3 linked regions of the Homo sapiens genome follow. The protein of the gene in region 3 interacts with the protein of the main gene of each other region in a pairwise test. Each region holds a gene or a part of one and is shown on either strand. Other genes may lie near its edges.

Region 1 (7,937 bases), on a different chromosome or scaffold from region 3:
ACACTAACAGATGAGGAAAGTCACCACACTGCACCTGAAAAAAAAGAACAAGGCATTTTTCCCTAGTCAAACTGAACTGCTCTAGGTAGAACCAAACTACTTTTTAAGTAACAAATATTTTATGTGTCTACCCATGAAACTCCCAGTTCATGAGTAGATACACCCAATTTTTTATATATGTGTAAAACTTGGAGTTTCATGGGTAGATACACAAAATATTGTGTATCTTTTATATATATATATATATATATAAATATATATATGCTGAAAAGTTTACTATTCGCCTGACACTAATTTTGTATAACTTATATACGTGACAGCACATGCAAGATACAAAACTAAATGCTAGAAAGCGGGAACTCCCAAACCTGACTATCAGAATCTCCTAGAAAACTTTTTAAAATAAAGGACTGACTAATGAACAGACCCTATCATCCATGAGATTAGGATTCTGTAACTCTGAGATTCAGGCCTTTCTTACTTCGGACTATTAGAAACAGTCCCTGTGATAACAATTCAGTGCATTTGGTTTCTTTGGGAGGTTACTTGTGAGATAAAGGAAAACTTCATAGGAGAGTGGGGATGCGAAACAGGGAAAGGAAGGCAGCCAGTAAGAGTGTGTTGTCAAGTTGAATGGCTCTAGGTATCTGTGTTTGATCCTGCTAGGGAAACTCTTAAAGCCAACATAAACACCCACCAGAGTGTTAACCCACCCAAAGGGTGGGGAAGCTGCCGTATGATTATCTCTGATGAGTTCTTTCTTGAAGCCTGCTTAGAAAAGTGGATGGGGGAAAAGAAAGAGCATTAATTCCAGGCATTTCAAATCTACTATGGGTGTCACAGAGAGAAAAGCCCTCAGGCAAAGTACAGATGTACAAAGTTAGAAGTCAGAAGTCAGTCTGTGTGCACTTAAAAGCAAGAGGACTGGGTAGGGCACTAACAGTATCTGCTGATGATGAGTTTTGCAAAAGCTTTTCGGGTGTTTCTGATGATCAGTCTGGTTTGGGAACCAGTGCTATGAAGGCTATAAAGATGAGTGGGTGACAGACCTTAGCCTCGGGAGCATAAAGTCTTGTAAGGTGAAGTTCTGTAAATAACCATTATTGAAAAAATGGAATACGTATCTTAAGAGAAGCGCTTATTGCAATGAATTTTAATACTTTGTAAACTCATCCATCTCTGTCACTAAAAAGTCCCAAGGAAAAGAACTATTCAATCTAATATACTGCCTGGAAAATGGCAAGTGTCCCACAGACACTTACTGCCTTGTTTTTTCAACTTCAATCTAATCAAAAATAAGGGTTATGCTTTAAATGTTTCATAGTTTGATTAAGCTGCAAATAAAAGAGTAAACAGGTGAACATTTCTTAAAAGCAAATTTAACACATAAGACCATTATATTAAATTCATGTCCAAAATATACATTCCAAATTCTGTACAACAAAATGTGGCCACAGAAAATAAAATGTATTCTATCACTAGGAAAACTGAAGACAAAGCTATTGACGGAAAATGTAATTTGTCTATAAATGATGGATACTGCAGTAATCAATTTATTTTAAATTAGTATACATGCAGTATCAATAAAGAGACCAAAAAAAAACCTTCAATGTCACAACACTATCAACTAGTCTAATGATTTTTACGTGTACAATCTTTTCTTATTATTTCTTATTTTTAAGACGCACTTAATTAAATAGTATCTGTAAATCTAAGAAAGGTCGGAAGGGAAAACCAGGGTATTGGGCAAAAACGTTTCCATCAGCATCATATATTAATTTGAGTTCCTTAAAAGGAGTGGATAAATGTCTTCCACAGACACTTTATTCTCCTAAAGATCCTTCTTTACTCTCTACTCCCTGGAAGATTCAGTTCGTTCTCACAAAATATTGCCATTGGGCACTTTTATCAACTACAACAGACAAAGAGGCATCAGGATAGAGGGGAGAGGATCTTTCACAAAGCTCTAATCTCAGCCACGCACGGTGGCCCACGCCTGTAATCCCAGCACTTTGGGAGGCCGAGGCAGGCGGATCACCTGAGGTCAGGAGTTCGAGACCAGCCTGGCCAACGTGGTGAAACCCCGTCTCTACTGAAAAATACAAAAATTAGCTGTGCGTGGTGGCGGGCGCCTGTAATCCCAGCTACTCGGGAGGCTGAGGCAGGAGAATCGCTTGAACCCGTGAGGCGGAGGTTGCAGTGAGCCGAGACCGCGCCATTGCATTCCAGCCTGGGCGACAACAGCTAAACTCCGTCTCAAAAAAAAAAAAAAAAAAAAAAAAAACTAATCTCAGGAACGTCCTAATACAATTTATTTGAGAATTAGAAACGATCTTTGGAGTAAATACATATTTACAACACTTTACTTGTAAATGACAATGACATCGAGAAATCTTAAGCCAGCTAGAAAGTAAATCACATGGTGTCATCTCCGCTCAAAATGCTCCAACGGCTTCTCGTCTTATTCTGAGACTGACTGGGTCTGCACTCCAACTCCATCCCAACACATACACCCATCTCCGATTACCCTTCCCGCTGGTTCACCACTATCGGCTACGCCGGCCTCCTGAGGTTCTTAGAACATGCCGTGCACATCCCTGCCCGGGAATTTTGCACTTGCTGTCCCCTCTTACCTGTTCCACTCTTTGCTCGGATTTCTGTATTTATGACTTTTCAATTTCCTTCAAGTCTCGGCTCAGATGCCACTTCTCAGTGGAGCTTTTCTTGTTTAAAAATACAAGCCAGCCTCCCACACCTCTTCCCCCTTCCCTGTGTTATTTTTCTCCATAGCACTTATCACCTTCCAATGCGGGCGGGAGAAGCACTGCTCCTCAGGGGGGCGCGAAACCCCGAGCCGGGGGGCCTCCCCTCTCCCACGCTCCCGGCCCCCGCAGACTCACCAGGTTCCGCAGCTGGGCCGCCTGCTCCTTGTGATAGTCCAGCCGTCCCAAGGAGCAGGGCCGATACTTGTCCACCCAGAGGCTCATGGCAGCTCGAGTTCCCGGGGGCCTACGCTTGAAAATCCCGCGCGAGCGCGCGTCCTCCCCACAACGCAGAGACAAGTTTTCCCGCGAGCTCCAAATCTCGTGACGTCACTACCGGTCGCGGCCGCGTAAATGATTTTGGACGGAAAGGCTACGGGGGCCGTGTGCAGACAAAATCAGCTGCCGCGTCGATGCCCTCTAGTTCTGAAGTTCACTGCTTTATTTATTTTCTCTTTGTTCGCACCGTCTATTATATTCTAGAAATTATCAAGCGGAATTGAAAATGTGGTTCTGACCCTTTTGGCGTCACATCCAGATACCTCAGAGAAGACCGTTCCTTTCATTTATTCATTCTTTCATTCACTTAATTCATTCAACAAAAATTTACTAAATATCTGCTAGGTGTGGAACTCTGTCCTCGGCACTAGAATATATACATCTCAGGGTTTCACTCACTTGGCAGGTACCCAGTAAAGCTTCATTGGATGAATCGCTTGAAAATGTCTGATCTTCACTATCCTTTGTTACCTCTATTCCTCAATATTCTTATTGGATTAGAAACAAAAGAATCAAGAGCATGGAAAAACTACCCAAATGTGGTCTGTAGGGGAGAAGACACGAGGTTAATATGCATTCTAAGTCTAGAATATTTGAAAGCCCTCCAATTAAAATGTGTAGAAGCATCTGAACCCCTCAGAAAAATATTCTGCATATGAAGTTGATATGCAACTTTTGAAGTTCTCTTCAAATAGTGCCTCTCAAAATGCACTTTACTCATTGTACATAATATTAATTCCTTATTTAATTTATGCTTTTATTTTATGTATTATTAAGAACCCTAAGTCCTGCCATTTGATTGCAAGGTCTTACAGGCAGGAAATGATTTCCAAATATACTTAATAACCTTTCACCAAGGTGCCTCTTACTCATTTATTAATCAATAATTTATCATGTTCTTCTATGAATCGTCATATTACATGAATTACTCCTGCAGGTAAGGTATTATCCACACCACCAAGTATAAGATTTAATCCCTGTTCTCGAGAAACTTTCTATAATAAGCCTGGAAGGCTTCTGCCTCAGGGCCTTTGCAATTACTGTTTCCTCTTCCTGGACTATGTTTCTCCAGTCAGCAGAGTTGGGTCCCTCATTTCCTTCAGGATGTTGGCTCAAGTATTATCTCCTCACTGAGGCTTCCCTGACCACCCTATTTAATATTGCAAAAAAGCTTCATCTTCTTTATGCTTCTCTCCTTTGGAATTGAAATGGAGGAAGTGTTTGAAATGAGAAGGTAAAGGAAATCAGAAGCAGGGATACTGAATTGTGGTCTATGTGTATATCATAATCATAATGAATGATAATGGAAATAAGTACTGAGAGGAATAAAGAGAAGAACCAAGTGCTAGAATGATCAATAATTTGGCAAGAGTGACCACAGGCATGACAGACAACTTCAATAAGGAGCAGTGGTTGATGGTCTCTACCGTGAAGACATGTCTCTACCATTGAAGCACATGAAGACATGTGCTTCAATATTGTTGGGGGTTCTGAGGAAGGAGAAATAGTGTGGTGACCCAGGAAGTCCAGTTAAATTTGAATTTCAGAAGCTTTTTCATATGTCTATGGCAAAATTTATTACAAATGATTTTTTTTCTCATATAAGTATGTCCCTGGCAATATTTGAAATTGTAATAAATATTGCCAGGGACATACTTATATGAGAAAAAAAATCAGCCTTTATCTGAAATTCAAATGTAACCAGGGCCCTGTATTTATCTAGCAATTTTACTCCAGACTCTTGAATATATAGGATATGAGAAATTGCTACAGAGGAAGTAAAGTCCTCGGGGTTGGTAAACTACAGCTGCAATCACTTTAATGTTTAATGACTCTGGCCCTCAGGTATCTTAGCTCTTTTTTTTTTTCTTGAGATGGAGTCCCAGTCTGTCTCCCAGGCTGGAGTGCAGTGATGCGATCTCGGCTCACTGCAACCTCCACCTCCTGGGTTCAAGCGATCCTCCCACCTCAGCCTCCCATGTAGCTAGGGTTACAGTTGTGCACCACCACGCCCAGCTAATTTTTTGTATTTTTAGTAGAGACAGGGTTTTACCATGTTGACCAGGCTGGTCTCGAACTCCTGAGCTCAGGCAAGCCAGCTGCCTCGGCCTCCCAAAGTGCTGGGATTACAGTAGCGAGCCACCACGCCCGGCAATCATATAGTAATTGTAAGTTTAATTTTTTGAGTAACTGCCATACCGTTTTCCACAGTGGCTGCACCACTTTACATTCCCATGAGCAATGCAAAAAGATTCCAATTTCTCCACATCTTCACCAACCAACAACCTTTTTAAATTTTAGTCATTCTGGCAGGTTTACAGAGAAATCTCATTATGATTTTAATTTCCCTAATGATAAATGATGTTGAGCATCTTATTAATTATTAGAATATTCTTTTGTAAAGTGACTATTCAAATATTTTGCCTATTTTTATTAGATTGTTTGTCTTTTTCTTATTAATTTCTTTCCTTTTCATGCATGTATTTTAAATAATCTTTTTCCTACATGTGGCTTGGCTTTAATCTCTGTTAATGGTGTCTTTTGATAAATAGTTCTTAAGTTAAATATAGTTCAGCTTGTACTGTTTTACAAAATCTTTACCTACTCCAAAGTCTTGAAGATGTTCTTCTGTGAGTTTTTCTTCAAGTTTTATGGTTTTGCTCTCACATTTAGATTTTAAATCCACTGGAATTTTTTTTTTGTATGCCTCCATACAAAAAAAAAAGTCTAAAAGGTCAAGGTACATTTTTTTCCATGTGGATATCCAGTTACACCAGCAGTGTTTATTAAAAAGACCTTTATTCACTGTACTGTAGGGTCACCTTGTCATAAATCATGTGACCTTGTATGTGTGGATTTGTTGCCGAACTCCCTGTTTTGTTCCATCAATCTATTTGTCTATCTATGCACAGGTACCAGACTGTCTTGATTACTATAGCCTTATAATAGGTCTTGGTTTCTGGTAGTTTGACTTCTATTCTTATTCAAGATTATCTTTGCCAGTTTTTGTCCTCTGCATTTTCATATAAATGTTAGAATCAGCTTGTTAATGTTGCAGAAATCTTGGCTGAGTTTCTGTTTGGTATGGCTAGTTACAGGGAGTTAAGTCCATGTCTGAACTTTGTGGATTTCACCTTGTTGATCTTCAAAATCATAAAACATAAATTGTTCCACTTGAGCATATTACAAACCACCTATTTTACTGATGCTTTTATATACGCAACTACAATTCTAAAACCAAAAAAAAAACACTTTACTTTCTGTATGATTTAACTGTGATATATATTTAACACATCTTCAATTACCCTTGCTACCTTCTTAAAAGGTAATATGTTAAAACTGAAAATACTCATTCATAGGCATTTAAAAGGAAATTTTATTTTAAGTGAAATGGCATGAAAAAACAATTAAAACTTTAAAAACACAAAATGTGATTAAATATCCTAGGGGTAAAAAGATAGGGTCTTTATTCCTTCGGGGCTTTGTTTCTCTCATCGCTGATGTTATTATCATCTTGATGTTTGAAATATGACTAATCTATGGCCTGTGAGAGACAAACCTTGAACACGGGAGATCCCACAGTGGAGCAAAGTGAGAGGATGACCCAGGCGACAAAGACAGAACAAGCTTGGAAAACCACCAGTCCAGGCAGAAGCAGGAGGATTACTGTCTTCAAGAAGATAAAATTAATACCTGATATGCTTGCACATACTGAGATGAGATTTACTCCTATAGAAAAGAGTTTAGTAATAAATTAGCAAGGTGTGTGTTAAACACTAAGTCAAAGACAAAACAAGACAATTACTAATAGCAGAGTACATAAAAGGTACAGAGTTGTTCCTCCGTGTTAATGAGGAATTGATTCCAGAACCTCTACAGATCACCAAATCCATGGATGTTCAAATTCCTTATATAAAATGATGTAGTATCTGCATATAGTCTACACACATCATCTTGTATACTTTAAATTATCTCTAAATTACTTACAATAAGTAATGTAAAGAAAATGCTATGTAAATAGTTGTTATTGTTTTTTATTTGTATTATTTATTGTTGGTTTGTTATTTTTTGTTGTTGTTTTCTGAATATTTTCAATCTATGTTCGGTTGAATCTGTGGATGTGGAACTGGGATATATGGAGGGCTAACTACATAAGGAATAGATAATACATGAGAAAGGAAATTTTATAGCATTAAAATATGCTCAACTGTGAATAATATTTACATAATCCAAATAATGTAAACATTATGGGCTGGGCATGGTGGCTTACATCTGTAATCCTAGCACTTTGGGAGGCCAGGAATTTGAGACCAGCCTGACCAACATGGTGCAACCCTGTCTCTACTAAAAACACAAAAATTAGCCAGGCAAGGTGCCGTATGCCTGTAATTCCAGCTACTCAGGAGGCAGAGGCAGGAGTATCACTTGAACCCGGTGTATCACTTGAACCCGGTGGAGGTTGCAGTGAGCCGAGATCATGCCACTGCACTCCAGCCTGGGTGACAGAGCAAGACTCGGTTTCAAAAAAAAAAAAAAAATTGTGTATTTCCCTATGAAGAAATTATAATATAAAAATAGGGGGAAATGAGAGGAAAGGAAGTGTGTACAGTTGTGAGAATGGAATTGTATGAGAGGTGAGACCTCATCTCCACAGAAGGAAATTGACAGCTAAACAAGCAAAATCAAGAAGTAGTAGTATTAGCATGTTATTAAGAAACATGGAATTGATGCCAGAATACACATGTGTGCATGCACACACGCACATACACACGCACACAAAAAGAGTTGAAAGTGTTTTCTGGGCCGGGTGCAGTGGCTCACGCCTGTAATTCCAGCACTTTGTGAGGCCGAGGCAGGTGGATCACCTGAGGTCAGGAGTTCAAGACCAGCCTGGCC
Region 2 (7,966 bases), on a different chromosome or scaffold from region 3:
ACTAAAGTAAACAAAACTAAACAAGCAAACCCTCCAATGGCTTCCCTCAATCTTCGGGCCCTATCTGCATGACTGCCTGCCCCTCCTCCATCTCTCCACTTTCCCCACTCACTAGCTGTTCAACACACAGGCTTCCTGACTGACTTCAGGCAAGCTCCACTCATTTCCACCTCAGGGCTTTAACCCAAGCAGTTCTCGGCCTGGAAGGCTCCTCTCAAGCACCTAATACAGTACCTGGCACACAGTAGGTGCTGAAAAAAACCTGGAAACAGGAAAGAACCTAGTATATCCCTGCTAGAGGAACCAAGAGTGCACCAGGGTGACTCAAATAGAGGCATAAGATGAGTTGGGACTTCAGTCCCAGTGAAGTGGGGAACCTACAGTTTTCAGGGGCCAGCATTCAGAGACCAGATTTGTCTTTTGAAAAGACCCCATTGGCTGCTGTGTGGATCTGCGGAGCAAGAGATCCAGGGAGACCTGCAAGGAGAGAGACCAGACTGGGGTGGTGACCGTGGAGACAGACAAGTGGCAGATCTGCTCACATAAAATGGAGACAATACTACTTTATCTGTATGCATGTCTGTGCCACCCCTGTCTCTGGGTCACCTTTGTGTCTCCAGCATGACCTGGCTCAGAGAAGGGGTCAGCAACTGTTTACCGACCATATCTGTCCTCAGAACTGAATGAAAGATCCATGAGAGGGGCTGGCACGTGACAAGGGTGGCAAAGAAAAACAACACAAATCTGAACCTAGTCTGAGTCCCAGCATTTACTAATGACCCAGAGAGGACCCAGAGAGGAGTTTGCTGCAGGTTCCATAGCCAATTAACCGCAGAACCAGAACTGGCAGCCAGGCAGGGCTAGAGCAGAGGCCCCTCTCAAGGCCCCTCCTGGGAGGGGCCCGGCTGTATGGGACAATGGGTTATGCCCTGTGCTGCTAAGCTCCACCCCTCCACCACCACATGTCCCTCCAGCTAAAAATAACTCCTTCAGTGCCCTCGAGGACACTGTGCCAGCCCCACAGTTTTCCCTGGGACCCTCAACTCCAAAGGCACAGGAGAGGCTAGATGCTGCAATCTCTGGAGCTAAGGACTTGCAAAAGTCACAGGAACACCTGTCCCCAGGACAAGCCAAGAGGAACAGCAAGAGCCCCTGTAAACATCAGTTTCTTCATCTGTAAAGTGTGGATAATCATCCCTAGCTTGCTATGCGCCTTAAGTAAAGATAATGCCATATGATCAAGATCTGGCATACAGCAGGGCCTCCTTCCTCCAGCCCCACCCAGCTAAGCTCCCCATCCCCAAATCCAGCTTTATCTCCACCCACACAACCCAATGGCCCCAATCCTGACCCACTAATCTCTCCACAGTATGACAAGCCCCCATTCCAGCTCTACTATTGATGTGACCTTCACATAACCTTTCTGGGTTCAGTTTCAGCATCCACACAATGGAGACAGTCTACTCTGGTAGCAACTTGATGAACTACTTCAACAGAATCTTTGCAAGTCACCTCCCAAGGGCCTCAGTTTCATGCTCTATATAACGGGATTACGTCCACCTCTATGAAGATTATTGTGTAAACACACGTAAATCACCAGATATACAGCAAGTGTTTCCATAAATGTGGATGGCATTCTCCAGACTTAATAGTGTCTTTTTTTGTTTGTTTTTTTTTTTTGAGACAGGGTCTTGCTCTGTTGCCCAGGTTGGAGCGTGGTGGTGCAATCTCGGCTCACTGCAACCTCCGTCTCCCCGGCTCAAACAGTCCTCCTGCCTCAGCCTCCCGAGTAGCTGGGAATGAAGGCGCCCGCCACCACGCCCAGCTAGTTTTTGTATTTTTGGTAGAGATAGCGTTTCACCACGTTGGCCAGGCTGGTCTCGAACTCTTGACCTCAAGTGATTCGCCCACCTCGGCCTCTCAAAGTGCTGGGACTACAGGGGTGAGCCACCACACCCGGTCCAATAGTGTCAAAGTTACTTGAAAAGCTACCAGCCAAACTGAACTGGTTTTTGCTGAAAATTCACTAGGATTGTTCCGCGTGTATTCGCTTGCACACAGTGGTGAAAGGGTGCGCTCAGAGATCTAGATGGCCTGCGTTCCAATCTTGCTCCATCACCACCAGCTGTAAGACTGAGGGCAAGTTACCTCTGCCTCAGGATTCTCATCATAAAATGAGAACAGTTTCCCTATAGAGCCATGAGACTAGAATAAAGCTAGAAGGCAGTGCCGATCCCACAGGAAACACTAAGTAAACGTTAACTATCCCTGTATTACACTTCAATCGGTGGGACAGCAGGATTTTTCAAACCACTCCAAATTTTCTTCGAGATTTCTGCAAGGCTGCCCCTGCTGGAGGGGTGGGGGACCCCACAGGTTGGGTAACTGGCCCAAAGTCCCAGGGGAGAGGAGGATCGGAGCCGGCCTGGGGCTCGCTTTCCAGGCCTCTCCTCATACACCCTCCGGGGTGCCCTCGCCGTCCCTGTAGGAGGCCCAGAGAGGGGTGGACGCTCGTCGGGGCCGCCCAGCTGGACAGGGTCCGGTCCAGGCCTAGGAGGCCGGGCGCAGGCCCCCCGAGCAGGGTCCGGCAGGTGCCAGCCGTCCCAGGCCGTGGCCAGGTGTGCTCTCCCGCGGAGCACGCCGCCAGTTTGCGGCTCGCAGACCGCGCGGCGGCCCCGGCGTCGCGGGGCATGCTGGGACTTGTAGTCCACGGCCACCCGGAACGGCCCGCTCATGGCCGCGCGAGAACTCCAACTTCCAGCTGGCTTCGCGCGGCCAGAAACGCGCCGAGGCTGCGATTCCAGGGGGTCCAGAGAGCCCCGAGTCGGCCCTGCAGCCCCCGCCACGAACAAGCCCCGGGCGGGTGCCGGGCGGCCGCAACCGGCTGCAGGTCCTGGGACTCACCGACTTTGTAGGGCAGTTTGTCAGACATGCTGGCGGCACTCGTGATGGAAACGGGCGAAGGGGGCTGGGCCTCAGTCTGGGAACAGGAACTGGGCGGGCAGCGCCGAGCAGGGATATGCGCGTGGCGCCGACGCCTTTAAATATCTTCCTCGCACTTGCATATTCATGACCCGCTGGGGCGGGGCCCAACGCGCAGGGCGGAGCCGGAGGGGATTTCGATCCCTGAAAAGAAGCCTCAGAATTTCACAAGGCGTGGCCCCAGGAGTCTCACTCACCGGTCCGGAAGGGAGCGCCGGGAGAGGCCTGAGAGCCAGCCGGGCCGTCCTCTCGCTGGTTCAGCCAGTTGATTCAGTGTCAAAACCCAGCGGAACTGAAATTCCGCCAGTTCACTTCCCTGTGCCTCAATTTCCTCATCTGTAAAATGGGCCAAATGACATCTGCCACACAGATTATTATAAGTAAAGTTGCAGGCCAGGCGCGGTGGCTCACACCTGTAATCCCAGCACTTTGGGAGGCCAAGGCGGGAGGATCGCTTGAGCCCAGGAGTTCAAGACCATCCTGGGCAACACAGTGAGACCTGAACTCTACAAAAAAAAATTAAAAATTAGCCGGGCGTGGTGGCGCGCGCTTGTGGTCCCAGCTACTTGGGACGCGGAGGCGGGAGGGAGGATCTTTTGAGCCTGGAGATCGAGGCTGCAGTGAGCTATCATCCCACCACAGCACTTGAGCCTGGGCGAAAGGGCAAGACCCTATCTCAAAAAAACCAAAACAAAGTTAAGTTGCCATTTGTCAGGTACCTACTGACATCCCAAACATTCGCCTTACTCCAAGTAACCAACACCCTGAATTTAAGTAAGTTTGCATACATTTCTTATACTTTTACTGCATCCGTATATCATTAAATAGTTCTGTGTTTAGCACCTTTATATATCAACCGTATTTACCCTTCTGCAACTTGCTTTTTTCTGTGAGCATTATATTTATGAGACTCATGCATATAGCTTGAGTATATTCATTTTTGCTGCTGTATAATTCAGTCATCCCAGGCATGGGAAGGGGAAATTGGTTTCAGGACCTCTGTGGACTCCAAAACCCTTCTATGTTCAAGTCCCTCATATAAAATGAGGCAGTATTGGCATATAACCTATGCACATTCCTCCGTACACTTTAATCATCTCTAGATTACTTATAACTAATATAATGTAAATGCTATGCAAATGGTTGTTTTGTAATTTGTATTATTTTTATAGTTATGTTTTTTTAATTGCTTTTTTTCCCCTGAATTTTTTTTTTTTTTTATGGAGTCTCACTCTGTCGCCCACACTGGAGTGCAGTGGCACCATCTAGGCTCGCTGCAACCTCCACCTCCCGGGTTCAAGCAATTCTCCTGCCTCAGCCTCCCGAGTGGCTTGGATTACAGGCACGCACCACCACACCTGGCTAATTTTGTTTTTTCTTTTTTTGAGATAGAGTTTGGCGCTTGTTGCCCAGGCTGGAGTGCAATGGCATGATCTTGGCTCACACCAACCTCTGCCTCCCGGATTCAAGCGATTCTCTTGCCTCAGCCTCCCGAGTAGCTGGGATTACAGGCATGAGCCACCACGCCTGGCTAATTTTGTATTTTTAGTAGAGACGGGGTTTCTCCATATTGGTCAGGCTAATCTCGAACTCCCGACCTCAGGTGATCCGCCAGCCTCTGCCTCCCAAAGTGCTGGGATTACTGGCGTGAGCCACCGTGCCCGGCCTCTACTCATTTTTTAACCTAAAAATGAGAAAAGAATTAAACTCTTCTGGCCGGGCGCGTGGCTCACGCCTGTAATCCCAGCACATTGGGAGGCCGAGGCGGGCGGATCACGGGGTCAGGAAATCGAGACCATCCTGGCTAACAGGGTAAAACCCCATCTCTACTAAAAATACAAAAAAAAAAAAAAATTAGCTGGGCGTGGTGTCGGGAGCCTGTAGTCCCAGCTACTCGCAAGGCTGAGGCAGGAGAATGGCGTGAACCCGGGAGGCCGAGCTTGCAGTGAGCCGAGATCGCACCACTGCACTCCGGCCTGGGCGACGGAGGGAGACTCTTGTCTCAAAAAATAAAAAATAAAAATAAGAATTAAGGTCTTCTATGACATAGTAAATGTATTGGTCTCACTTGATCTGTACATCTGACCTCTGTCTGAGAGTCATGAGGGCCGATGTCAAGCAGAGACTTCCTGAGGGAACGAGGGTCCACGCCTGGGAGGTGGGCAGCAGGGTCCTCACGCATCCCTTTCAGCATTCTGCAGTGCATTGCAGTGTGTAGTGAGTCGTGTCAGTCTAACTAAACGTAGGATCATGTTACTAGGTTGTCCTACGAGAACAGAAAAATGGCTTCAAAATATTCCTGCAAAGAAATGGCAAGTTCCAGATACTGTGAAAATTACCAGCACAGCAAACAAGTAGAAAAGGACACAGCTGACAGGTCTCTTTCTGGTATGAATGCTGGTCTTTGTCAGCCATGTTGTAAGGAATGTAATAAAATTTGAGAAAACAATGAAAAAGACACTTTGAAATATGAATTTACGGACCAGGCGCAGTGACTCACACCTGTAATCCCAGCACTTTGGAAGCCGGGGCGAGTGGATCACTTGGGGTCAGGAGTTCCAGACCAGCCTGGCCAACATAGTGAAACCCTGTATCTACTAAAAATACAAAAATTAGCCGGGCGTGATGGTGCACGTCTGTAAACTCAGCTACTCAGGAGGCTGAGGGACAAGAATTGTTTGAACCCAGGAGGCGGATGTTGCATTGAGCCAAGATTGCGCCACCGCACTCCAGCCTGGGTGACAGAACAAGACTGCCTCAAAAAAAAAAAAAAAAAAAGAAAAAAAAAGAAATGTGAATTTACATGCCCTCTCATTAATTAATGATGACTCTCATCCTCACTGTATATCGTGCTTTGAGATATCAGCTAATGAGATATTTGCTAATATTTGTACCGTTAAGTTCATATGAACAAAACTTTGGAGACTGCTGGTCTCAGGAGAAGGTCTAAGCACCTTAGTCTGGCCTTATGCAACCTCTCTAGCAGCAGAATGTTCTAGCCTATGGATATATTGCAATTGATATAGCCAATTTCCTATTATTTCAGCTTCTTTTTTTTTTTTTTTGAGAAAGAGTGTCTCTCTGTTGCCCAGGCTGGAGTGCAATGGTGTGATCTCGGCTCACTGCAACCTCTGTCTCCCAGGTTCAAAGTGATTCTCGTACCTTAGCCTCCCAAGTACCTGGGATTACAGGCACACGCTCCCACACCCGGATAATTTTTGTATTTTTAATAGAGACGGTGTTTCACCATGTTGGCCAGACTGGTCTTGAACTTCTGACATCAAGTGATCCTCCCGCCTTGGCCTTCCAAAGTGCTGGGATTACAGGTGTAAGCCACCACGCCCAGCCAGGTTCTTTTAATGGATGAACAGTTAAACAAATTGGTACAGCCATACCATGAAATAATACTCAGCAAAAGGAATAAACTTTGATAAATGCAGCAACCTGGATGAATCCTTAGAGAATTATGCTGAGTGACAAAAACCAATTCCAATATATTACATAGTATATTATTTCATTTCTATAATATTCTTGAAATGACCAAATTATAGAAATGAACCACAGATTAGTGGTTGCCAGGTATTAGGTAGGGGACGGGAGCAAGAGAGAGGTAAATGTGGCTGTAAAAGGGCAACATGAGGAAACTTTGTGGTGATGGAATGTTCTGGATCTTGCTTTATCATTGTCAGTATCCTAGTTGAGATGTTTTATTATGGTTTTGCAAGATGTCACCATTGGGAGAAAGCGAGCAAAGGGCATTGGGATTTCTCTGTGTTTTCTTTGTTTCTTTTTTCTTTTTCTTTTTTTTTTTTTTTGAGACAGGGTCTGCTATCTAGGCTCACAGCAACCTCCACCTCTCCCAGGCTCAAGCCATTCTCCTGCCTCAGCCTCCTGAGTAGCTGGGATTACAGGTGCATGTCGCTACCACCCGGCTAATATTTATATTTTTAGTAGAGATGGGCTTTCGCCATGTTGGCCAGGCTGGTCTTGAACCTCTGACCTCAAATGATCCACCTGCTTCAGCCTCCCAACATGCTGAGGTTTTTTTGTTTTTTGTTTTTTGTTTTTTTTGTCGGAGTTTCGCTCTTGTTGCCCAGGCTGGAATGCAATGGCAAAATCTTGGCTCACTGCAACCTCCTCCTCCCAAGTTCAAGCAATTCTCATGCCTCAGCCTCCTGAGCAGCTGGGATTACAGGCACATGCCACCGTGTCCAGCTAATTTTGTATTTTTAGTAGAGATGGGGTTTCTCCATGTTGGTCAGGCTGGTCTCGAACTCCTGACCTCGGGTGATCCGCCCGCCCTGGCTTCCCAAAGTATTGGGATTACAGGCGTGAGCCACCGTGCCCAGCCCCCTGTGTTTTCTTACAACTGCACATGAATCTACAATTATCTCAAAATAAAAGGTTTAATTACAAATGATAATGTTCATTGTTGGTGAGTGTATGGCAAAGTTTTGTCACCCATTAAATTAAAAAAATTTTTTAACTTTTATTTTAGTTCAGGGGTACCTGTGCCAGTTTGGTACATAGGTAAACTGGTGAGTTGGGGGTTTGGTGTACAGATTATTTCATCACCTGGGTACGAAGCACAGCACCTAAGTTTTTTTTTTTCTAAACCTCTCCCTTTTCTCACCCTCATCCCTCAAATAGGGCCCATGTCCATTGTTCCCTCTCTCTGTTGATGTGTTTTCATTATTTAGCTTCCACTTATAAGTGAGAACATGCTGTATTTGGTTTTCTGTTCCTGGGTTAGTTTGTTAAGGATAATGGCCTCCAGTTGCATCTATGTTCCTGCAAAGGACATGATCTTGTTCTTTTTTATGCATGCATAGTATTCCATGGTGTATATGTACCACGTTTTCTTTATCCAGTCTACCATTAATGGGAATTTAGGTTGACTCTATGTCTTTGCTATTGTGAATAGTACCTGTTAAATTTTAAAAGATTTGGCCAGGTGTGGTGGCTCAGGCCTATAGTCCCAGCA
Region 3 (7,831 bases):
CTCTCTCCTGCCACCCTGTGAAGGAGGCGCTTGCTTCGCCTTCCCATAATTGTAAGTTTCCTGAGGCCTCCCCAGCCATGTGGAACTGTGAGCCAATTAAACCTCTTTACTTTATAAATTACCCAGTCTCCGGTAGTTCTTTTTTCTTTTTTTTTTTTTTAAACAAAGTCTTGCTCTGTCGCCCAGGCTGGAGTGCAGTGGCACAATCTAGGCTCACTACAGCCCCTTCCTCCCAGGTTCAAGTGATTCTTGTGCCTCAGCCTCCCGAGTAGCTGGGATTATGGGCTTGCGCCATCACACCCACCTAATTTTTGTATTTTTTAGTAGAGACAGGGTTTCTCCATGTTGGCCAGGCTGGTCTCCAACTCCTGGCCTCAAGTGATCATCCACCTGTCTTTGGCCTCCCAAAGTGCTGGGATTATAGGCATGAGCCACTGTGCCCAGCCTTAGGTAGTTCCTGATAGCAGTGTGAAAATAGACTAATATACCTACCAAACATCATAACTTAGCCTAGCCTTAAATGTGCTGAGAATACTTTAATTAGCCTACAGTTGGGTAAAATCATCTAACACAAAGCCTATTTTATAATAAAGTGTTGAATATCTCACGTAATTTATTAAATACTGTACTGAAAATGAGAAACAGAATAGTTGTTTGGTTACACAAAGTAAGGTTTCTACTTATTTTTGCACTTTTGTGTATCACTTTTGCACTGTTGTAAAGTAAAAGAATCCTAACTGCAACCATCATAAGTTGGGAACCATCTGTATTCTTCAGTCTTTGGCTGTCTTCTTTTTAAAAATTATTTATTTACTTACTTATTTTAAGACAGGGTCTTACTGTCAGGGTTTCACTGTGTTGTCCAGGCTAGTCTGGAACTCCTGGGCTCAAGGGAATCCTCCTGTCTCAGCATCCTGAGTAGCTGGGATTAACAGGAACAAACCACCATTCCTGGCTGTCTTCAGCAGTCTTTTTTTTTTTTTTTTTTTTTGAGACAGAGTCTTACTCTGTTGCCTAGGCTGGAGTGCAGTGGCATGATTTCGCCTCACTGCAACCTCCACCTCCCAGGTTCAAGTGATTCCCCTGCCTCAGCCTCCTGAGTAGCTGGGAATACAGGTGCGCTCCACCACACCCGGCTACTTTTTGTATTTTTAGTAGAGACAGGGTTTCGCTCTGTTGGCCAGGCTGGTCTGGAACTCTGACCTCAGGTGATCCACCCTCCTCCGCCTCCCAAAATGCTGGCATTACAGGCATGAGCCACCGCGCCTGGCAGGAGTCTTCTCTCAGCACTCACAGACTCCCTTGGGGCTATCTCTTCTATTCCCATGACTTCAGCTAGCACCCTTTGCTGACTGCCAAAATACAAATCACCAGCCCAGATCTCCTTCCTAAATGCAATACCCATTCACATAACTGTTTACTGAACATATCCATTTAAATGAAAATCAGAAAAGAAAGCACAGGCTCAGAAGTTGAACTTGAGTTCAAAGCCTTGCTCCATCACAAACTACGATGTATAGCATTGGGCAAGTTTGTTTATTTATTTATTTATTTATTTTTGAGACAGAGTCTCACTCTGTTGCCCAGGCTGGAGTGCAATGGCGAGATCTTGACTCACTGCAACCTCTGCCTCCAGCACCTGCCGCCACGCCCATCTAATTTTTGTATTTTTAGTAGAGACGGGGTTTCGCCATGTTGGCTACGCTGGTCTCAAACTCCTGACCTCAGGTGATCTGCCCGCCTCAGCCTCCCAAAGTGCTGTGATTACAGGCATGAGCCACCGTGCCTGGCCAGCACTGGGGCAAGTTAATTACCTCCCTGAGCCTCAGATAATAATGATGGTCCTGTTTTACAGAGGAGTTGTTGTGAGGATTAAATGAGATAATCCATGTACAGCACTTCCTGCAGCACCTGGCAATGAGTTGATAGTAGCAGATAGTAAAGAGTAGTAGTAATTAAAAGGTCTCAGAAAGTTCAAGTCAACAGATTCAAAAGTGAATTCATGACCAAACCTCAAACCTTCTCTTCATCCTTTGTCCCAAATCTCAATAAATCACACCACCATCTAATCATCCAGAAACCCGAACATTATCCTTGTTTCTTGACCACCACTGCCCTCCCATTCTGCCAGGTTAAGTTTTCCTAACGTAAACCTTGTTGTAACCCACCTATGATCCAATGAATGTTTAAGATGTCTAGGCTTTGCACATATCCATTCATTCAATCCATAGAACAATCCTGCAAGGTGGGTGCTACTATTATTCCTGTTTCGCAGGTGCAGAATTTGAGGCACAGGAAAGTTGAGTAACTCATTCAAGATTATATGAGTGGCAAAGCTGGCATACAAACCCAGGCAGTCTGGCGTCTGTCTCCACACTCACTACCACTATGCCACATTGTTTCTATTGTAATGCATAGCACATTCTATTGTTCGCCTTGTCTCCCCTGATAAACTGTTCTTCAAAGTCAAGGACTCTGATTCATTTGCAGCAGCATCCTCAGTGACTAGAACAGTGCCTGGCAAACAGCACATGCTTAATACAGTTCAGTGAGTTAGGTAGTTCCCTAGAGACAAGACAGAGTAGAGATAAATGGAAGTAGTAATAGAACAGCCAGCAGGTTACATTCAGTTATATCCAAGATCAGAAGTTTTGTTTGTGGATAAAATTTTGTTTTTTTTAATCTGAAGATAATAAACAGAAGACTGAAATCAGAGTAAGTAGAGGTTGAGTTTAAGAAGATCTACTAATATTCACGGATACAGCAGTTATGTAGGGTACATGCTATAATCCTTTTAAGGAAGGGACATTTGACAAACTCTCATAAAGAGAACTCATAGACTTTGGGGGCCGGGCGCGGTGGCTCATGCCTGTAATTCCAGCACTTTGGGAAGCTGAGGCGGGCGGATCACCTGAGGTCGGGAGTTTGAGACCAGCCTGAGCAACATGGAGAAACTCCGTCTCTACTAAAAATACAAAAAATTAGCCAGGCATGGTGGAACATGCCTGTAATCCCAGCTACTCAGGAGGCTGAGGCAGGAGAATCGCTTGAACCTGGGAGGTGGAGATTGTGGTGAGCCGAGATCGCGCTGTTGCACTCCAGCCTGGGCAATGAGAGCGAAACTCCTCCATCTCAAAAAAAAAAAAAAAAAAAAAAGAACTCATAGACTTTGGGGTGCAGTCACGAACAATTTTTTTTAACTGCATTAAAAACAAAAAACAACAACAACAAAAAAACAAAAACAGGCCAGGCGCGGTGGCTCATGCTTGTAATTCCAGCACTTTGGGAGGCTGAGGCTGGCAGATCACATGAGGTCAGGAGCTGGAGACCAGACTGGCCAACATGGTGAAACCCCATGTCTACTAAAAATACAAAAATTAGCCGAGCATGGTGGCACAGGCCTGTAATCCCAGCTGCTCGGGAGGCTGAGGCAGGAGAATTGCCTGAACCTGGACTTAGAGGTTGCAAGGAGCTCAGAGATCGCCCCACCGAACACCAGCCTGGGCAACAGAGTGAGACTCTGTCTCAAAAACAAGCAAACAAAAACAACAAGCCACTACCTACTCCCATGTCACTGAAATTGTGTTGAAGGACTCAAATCCAGTGCCATACACATCAGTTTCAGATAGAGTATCATGCTGGATGTGAGAATTAAAATTTAAATTGGGGGAACAAATGAAAATGTAAGCTCAAGCAGGGTTACAATTTGCCATGGGGGTCAATTTAAGTGTGTAGTCAGTTTATATTCAGCACCACCTGGTGTGCACTGTGTACTGTGTGAATTACTGTATCATACTAAACAAACAGACATTGGTTTTTCTTAAACTGTAGCAAGAAAAATGCTTGCTGTGCAGATCCCAGCAGCCCCAAGAGACGGAAATGAAAACTCCATGCCTAAATTTATCCCTTCCTATTTCATCTCTCCTTGTTCAGGCCTTCCTCCCTTCCTCCCCAGGGCTATTTCCTTAATCTTGACCCCATCTGTAAAGTTCCATCCTGTGCCACATCGGAGGATCTCTTCAGGGCACCTGGGCTCAACAAAACAATATTTCCTTTTTCTCCCACTGGGTATAAAACAGTGCCAACTGAGGCTCTGAGCCTCATTAGATAGATCGGGCAAGAAGTGAAGCAAAATGCTGTTTACATGTACACCACAGCTCTTCCCAGAGCACTTGGAATCAGGACCAGGACACCTCCAAAGCCTCTTTGGTGTTTTTCCTTTCTTTTCTCCTTATATGGCCTTCATGAAGAGTAACTAATTACAATCTGTAAGCAGTAATTACAGTTCATAAACTGTGAGCACAATATAAATATTTTTCCTGAAAGCCAGGTTAGAAGAAATCCTGTCTAAAATGAGATGTAAAACAACAACAATTGAAATAAATATTCTAACTGAATTGTCCCCAAGCACTGTCAAAAAGAAGAAGAGTCTAATCTATCTCTGTAATAATGGGCGTATTATAGTAGGATCGTTTTCAGCCCATTTCCCCATCCTGCTGGGCACGAATTGGCTCAGATAAGGAAAAGGAGCCAACCAAACTGGGGGAAAATAACAAAAAAACCCCAAATCCCAATAAAAAGAACCCACCAATTATTTTGGATGCCTGGTAAACAGCCTGCACCAGAGGATAAGGCTTTTCTGGCCCTCAGCTATGCTTTTTTCTCTTTTCATGTGTCTTGTCCTCCTCCCTTGAAACTGCGGGGTGGGGAAGTCTAAAAATAGTCAATGAATCATGGCATATAATATTGTGCAGTAGTTACATAAACAGCCAGCCCGGGCGCCGGAGCCCCGGGTCGGAACGGAAAATATCTGGGTCAGCGTTGTCACACTGAACAGGGTCCCCCGGAGCCGGCCTTCGGGAGGCGCGGCCCGGGAGGAGGCCTGGGCCTGCGGGCCGGGAGCAGCAGGGGCGGCCCGCGGGAGGGAGCGGAAGTCCCGGGGCGGGCGCGGGCAGCGGCGCGAGCAGGGCGGGCGAGTTCCGCGCTCCCTCCCCATGGCCGGGAGCGGGCCGCGGCGACGGCGGCGGCGCTGACAGGCCCCGGGCGGGGCGGGGCAGGCGGGCCTGGGCGGGGGCCTGGGGCTGTGGGAAGATGAACGCCCTCCTAGAGCAGAAGGAGCAGCAGGAGAGGCTGCGGGAGGCCGCGGCCTTAGGGGACATTCGGGAGGTGCAGAAACTGGTGGAGAGCGGGGTGGATGTGAACTCCCAAAATGAGGTCAACGGCTGGTAAGTGGGGAGCGGGGGAGGCCTAGGGTCAGGGCAGCCGGTCGGAAGGCGTGGGGCAGTCAGTCGCGACCTGGGCCCAGCGCGGGACGCCTGGCTACGGCGAGGCCTGCCACCTCGGGCCTCCGAGATTGTGCTCTCTTGAGGCCAGCCCTGGCCCCCATGCCTCGTGCGGTCGGGAGCGCGTCCTGCCCAAATCCCGGCCCACGTGGTCCACTCGGGGCAGCGCCCACTGGGACTCTGGTGCCCTACCCCCTTCCCCCGCGCTCCCGGCTCACTTGGTCAGAGCGGTGCTGGAGGCAGTGATTCTCAGCGACTATGCGTTGGAGCTCACCCCAATTCGAGTGTTGAGTTAATTTGCCGTAGGTGCTTCTGGAGAACGCATCTTGCAGAGCTAAAAGCATAAGCAACTGAGCAAATATGAATTTTATAAACTAGCACGATTTCCTTAGCCAAGACCAGGAAAAAAAAACACATTTGCATCACCATTCTGCTTCTCTGTTGTTTCACTGCAACCGATTTGCTGCTGCTGCCTGTAGTTGCCTGTTTGAGGGAAAACTCATTTGTTTATCCTATCGATTATTTTCTTTCTTTTTTTTTTTTTTTTTTTTTTTTTTTTTGAGACAGGGTCTTGCCCTGTCGCCCAGGGTGGAGTGCAGTGGCATAGTCTCGGCTCACTGCAACTTCTACCTCCCCGGCTCAGGTGATCCTCCTGCCACAGCCTCCCAAATAGCTGGGAATACAGGCACGCGCCCCCACACCCGGCTAATTTTTTTTTTTTTTTTTTTTGGTATTTTTGGTAGAGATGGGGCCAGGTTGGTCTCAAACTCCTGGCCTCAAGTGATCCACCCGCCTCAGCCTCCAAAAGTGCTGGGATTACAGATGTGAGCCTACCGTTCCTGGCCAGTTTTCTTATTACAATTTCAAATACAGAATGTCACCCAAGACTTTAGATGTCTGCCTGCAGATTGAATTCTTCCCAATTAAATAAGGAGTCTCATCTTAAGATGTTGCTGGTGGTCAAAACAGAAAGTTACTGAATGTGGCATTATTCCGCTCTCTGCATTTAAAATTTAAAATTTTGATTCAGGTAATGCTTAGCCAGACTATTTTGCTAGCTTAGAGTTAAAGTGAGTAGCACTTTGGGAGGCTGAGGTGGGCGGATCACGAGGTCAGGAGATCAAGACCATCCTGGCCAACATGATGAAACCCCGTCTCTACTAAAAATACAAAAATTAGCTGGGCGTGGTGGTGCATGCCTGTAGTCTCAGCTACTTGGGAGGCTGAGGCAGGAGAATCACTTGAACCTGGGAGGCGGAGGTTGCAGTAAGCCAAGATTGCACCACTGCACTCCAGCCTGGGCGACAGAGCAAGACTCTACCTCAAAAAAAAAAAAAAGTGAGTTTACATTTTGTTTTTTTAAGTGGAATCATCCATTTTGGAACTGAAAGGGACAATGGAGAGAGGCTCAACCACAGAGAATAACTTGCCCTAGGCCACATAACTATTAATATGATAGCACCAGAACCATGGTTTCCAGACTGCCTCAAAAGTCTACCTACCTGGACCTGGCGCGGTGGCTGACGCCTGTAATCTCAGCACTTTGGGAGGCCAAGGTGGGCAGATCACGATGTCAGGAGTTCGAGACCATTCTGGCCAACATGGTGAAACCCTGTCTCTACTAAAGATACAAAAATTAGCCAGGGGTAGCGGTGTGTGCCTGTCATCCCAGCTACTTGGGATGCTGCAGCAGGAGAATCACTTGAACCAGGGAGTTGGAGGTTGAAATGAGCCAAGATCACACCACTGCACTCCAGGCTGGTGGCAGAGCGAGACTCTGTCTCAAAAAAAAAAAAAAAAAAAGTCTATCTTCCTGGTAGGACCTGGTGGCTCACGCCTGTAATCCCAGCACTTTGGGAGGCCAAGGCAGGAGGATCACTGGAGTCCAGAAGTTTGAGACCAGCCTGGGCAACATAGTGAGATCCCAGTCTCAAAAAAAAATTTTTTTCTACCTAATTTCCCTAAAGAAAACAGCCTGGACAGCTGTCCAGAAGGCCAGGAAACAGTGGATACTACCTTTTTGTTCTGTTTTTTTTTTTTTTTACAGGTCTTTGCAAACTTGCTGTTGTGTATGTAACCTTTTCTCAGCATTCCTCTGGTTCAAAGCTGTGAATTACCATTTTGGCACTGGGAGGCGGTGTTGTGTAGAAGGAGCCTGGTCTTTCCTGCAGGTTCTCCTCCATTCCTGCCTAGCTATGGGACTTTGCCTGAGATGCTTCATTTTCTACTTGTTCCAGAAGAGTATTGTGAGCCCTTAATGAGATGAAGCATAAATAGCTAACATTTATTGAACTTGCTTTGCAGCACAGATAGGATAGGGTTCTTTTTTTTTTTTTTTTTTTTGAGACAGAGTCTCGCACTCTCGCCCAGGCTGGAGTGCAGTGGTGCCAGGTGCCATCTTGGCTCACTTCAAGCTCTGCCTCCTGGGTTCACGCCATTCTCCTGCCTCAGCCTCCCGAGTAGCTGGGACTACAGGTGCCCGCCACCACGCCCGGCTAATTTTTTGTATTTTTAGTAGAGATGGGGTTTCACCGTGTTAGCCAGGATGG

The links.
Region 1: the proteins of ANKRD40 (region 3) and RFC3 interact in binary tests that used the Homo sapiens proteins (3 or more experiments, as listed by UniProt).
Region 2: the proteins of ANKRD40 (region 3) and AHCY interact in binary tests that used the Homo sapiens proteins (3 or more experiments, as listed by UniProt).

Annotation. Positions count from the first base shown.
Region 1 is NC_000013.11:33,813,229-33,821,165, reverse strand, and holds the start of RFC3 (replication factor C subunit 3), read right to left. Parts: upstream 3,018-7,937; 5' UTR 2,988-3,017; coding exon 2,901-2,987; intron 35-2,900; coding exon 1-34. UniProt on the Homo sapiens protein: Subunit of the replication factor C (RFC) complex which acts during elongation of primed DNA templates by DNA polymerases delta and epsilon, and is necessary for ATP-dependent loading of proliferating cell nuclear antigen (PCNA) onto primed DNA.
Region 2 is NC_000020.11:34,300,339-34,308,304, forward strand, and holds the start of AHCY (adenosylhomocysteinase), read right to left. Parts: upstream 3,018-7,966; 5' UTR 2,933-3,017; coding exon 2,905-2,932; intron 2,653-2,904; exon of another isoform or gene 1,443-2,652; coding exon of another isoform or gene 1,409-1,442; intron 1-1,408. UniProt on the Homo sapiens protein: Catalyzes the hydrolysis of S-adenosyl-L-homocysteine to form adenosine and homocysteine. Binds copper ions.
Region 3 is NC_000017.11:50,704,915-50,712,745, reverse strand, and holds the start of ANKRD40 (ankyrin repeat domain-containing protein 40), read left to right. Parts: upstream 1-4,831; 5' UTR 4,832-5,091; coding exon 5,092-5,225; intron 5,226-7,831.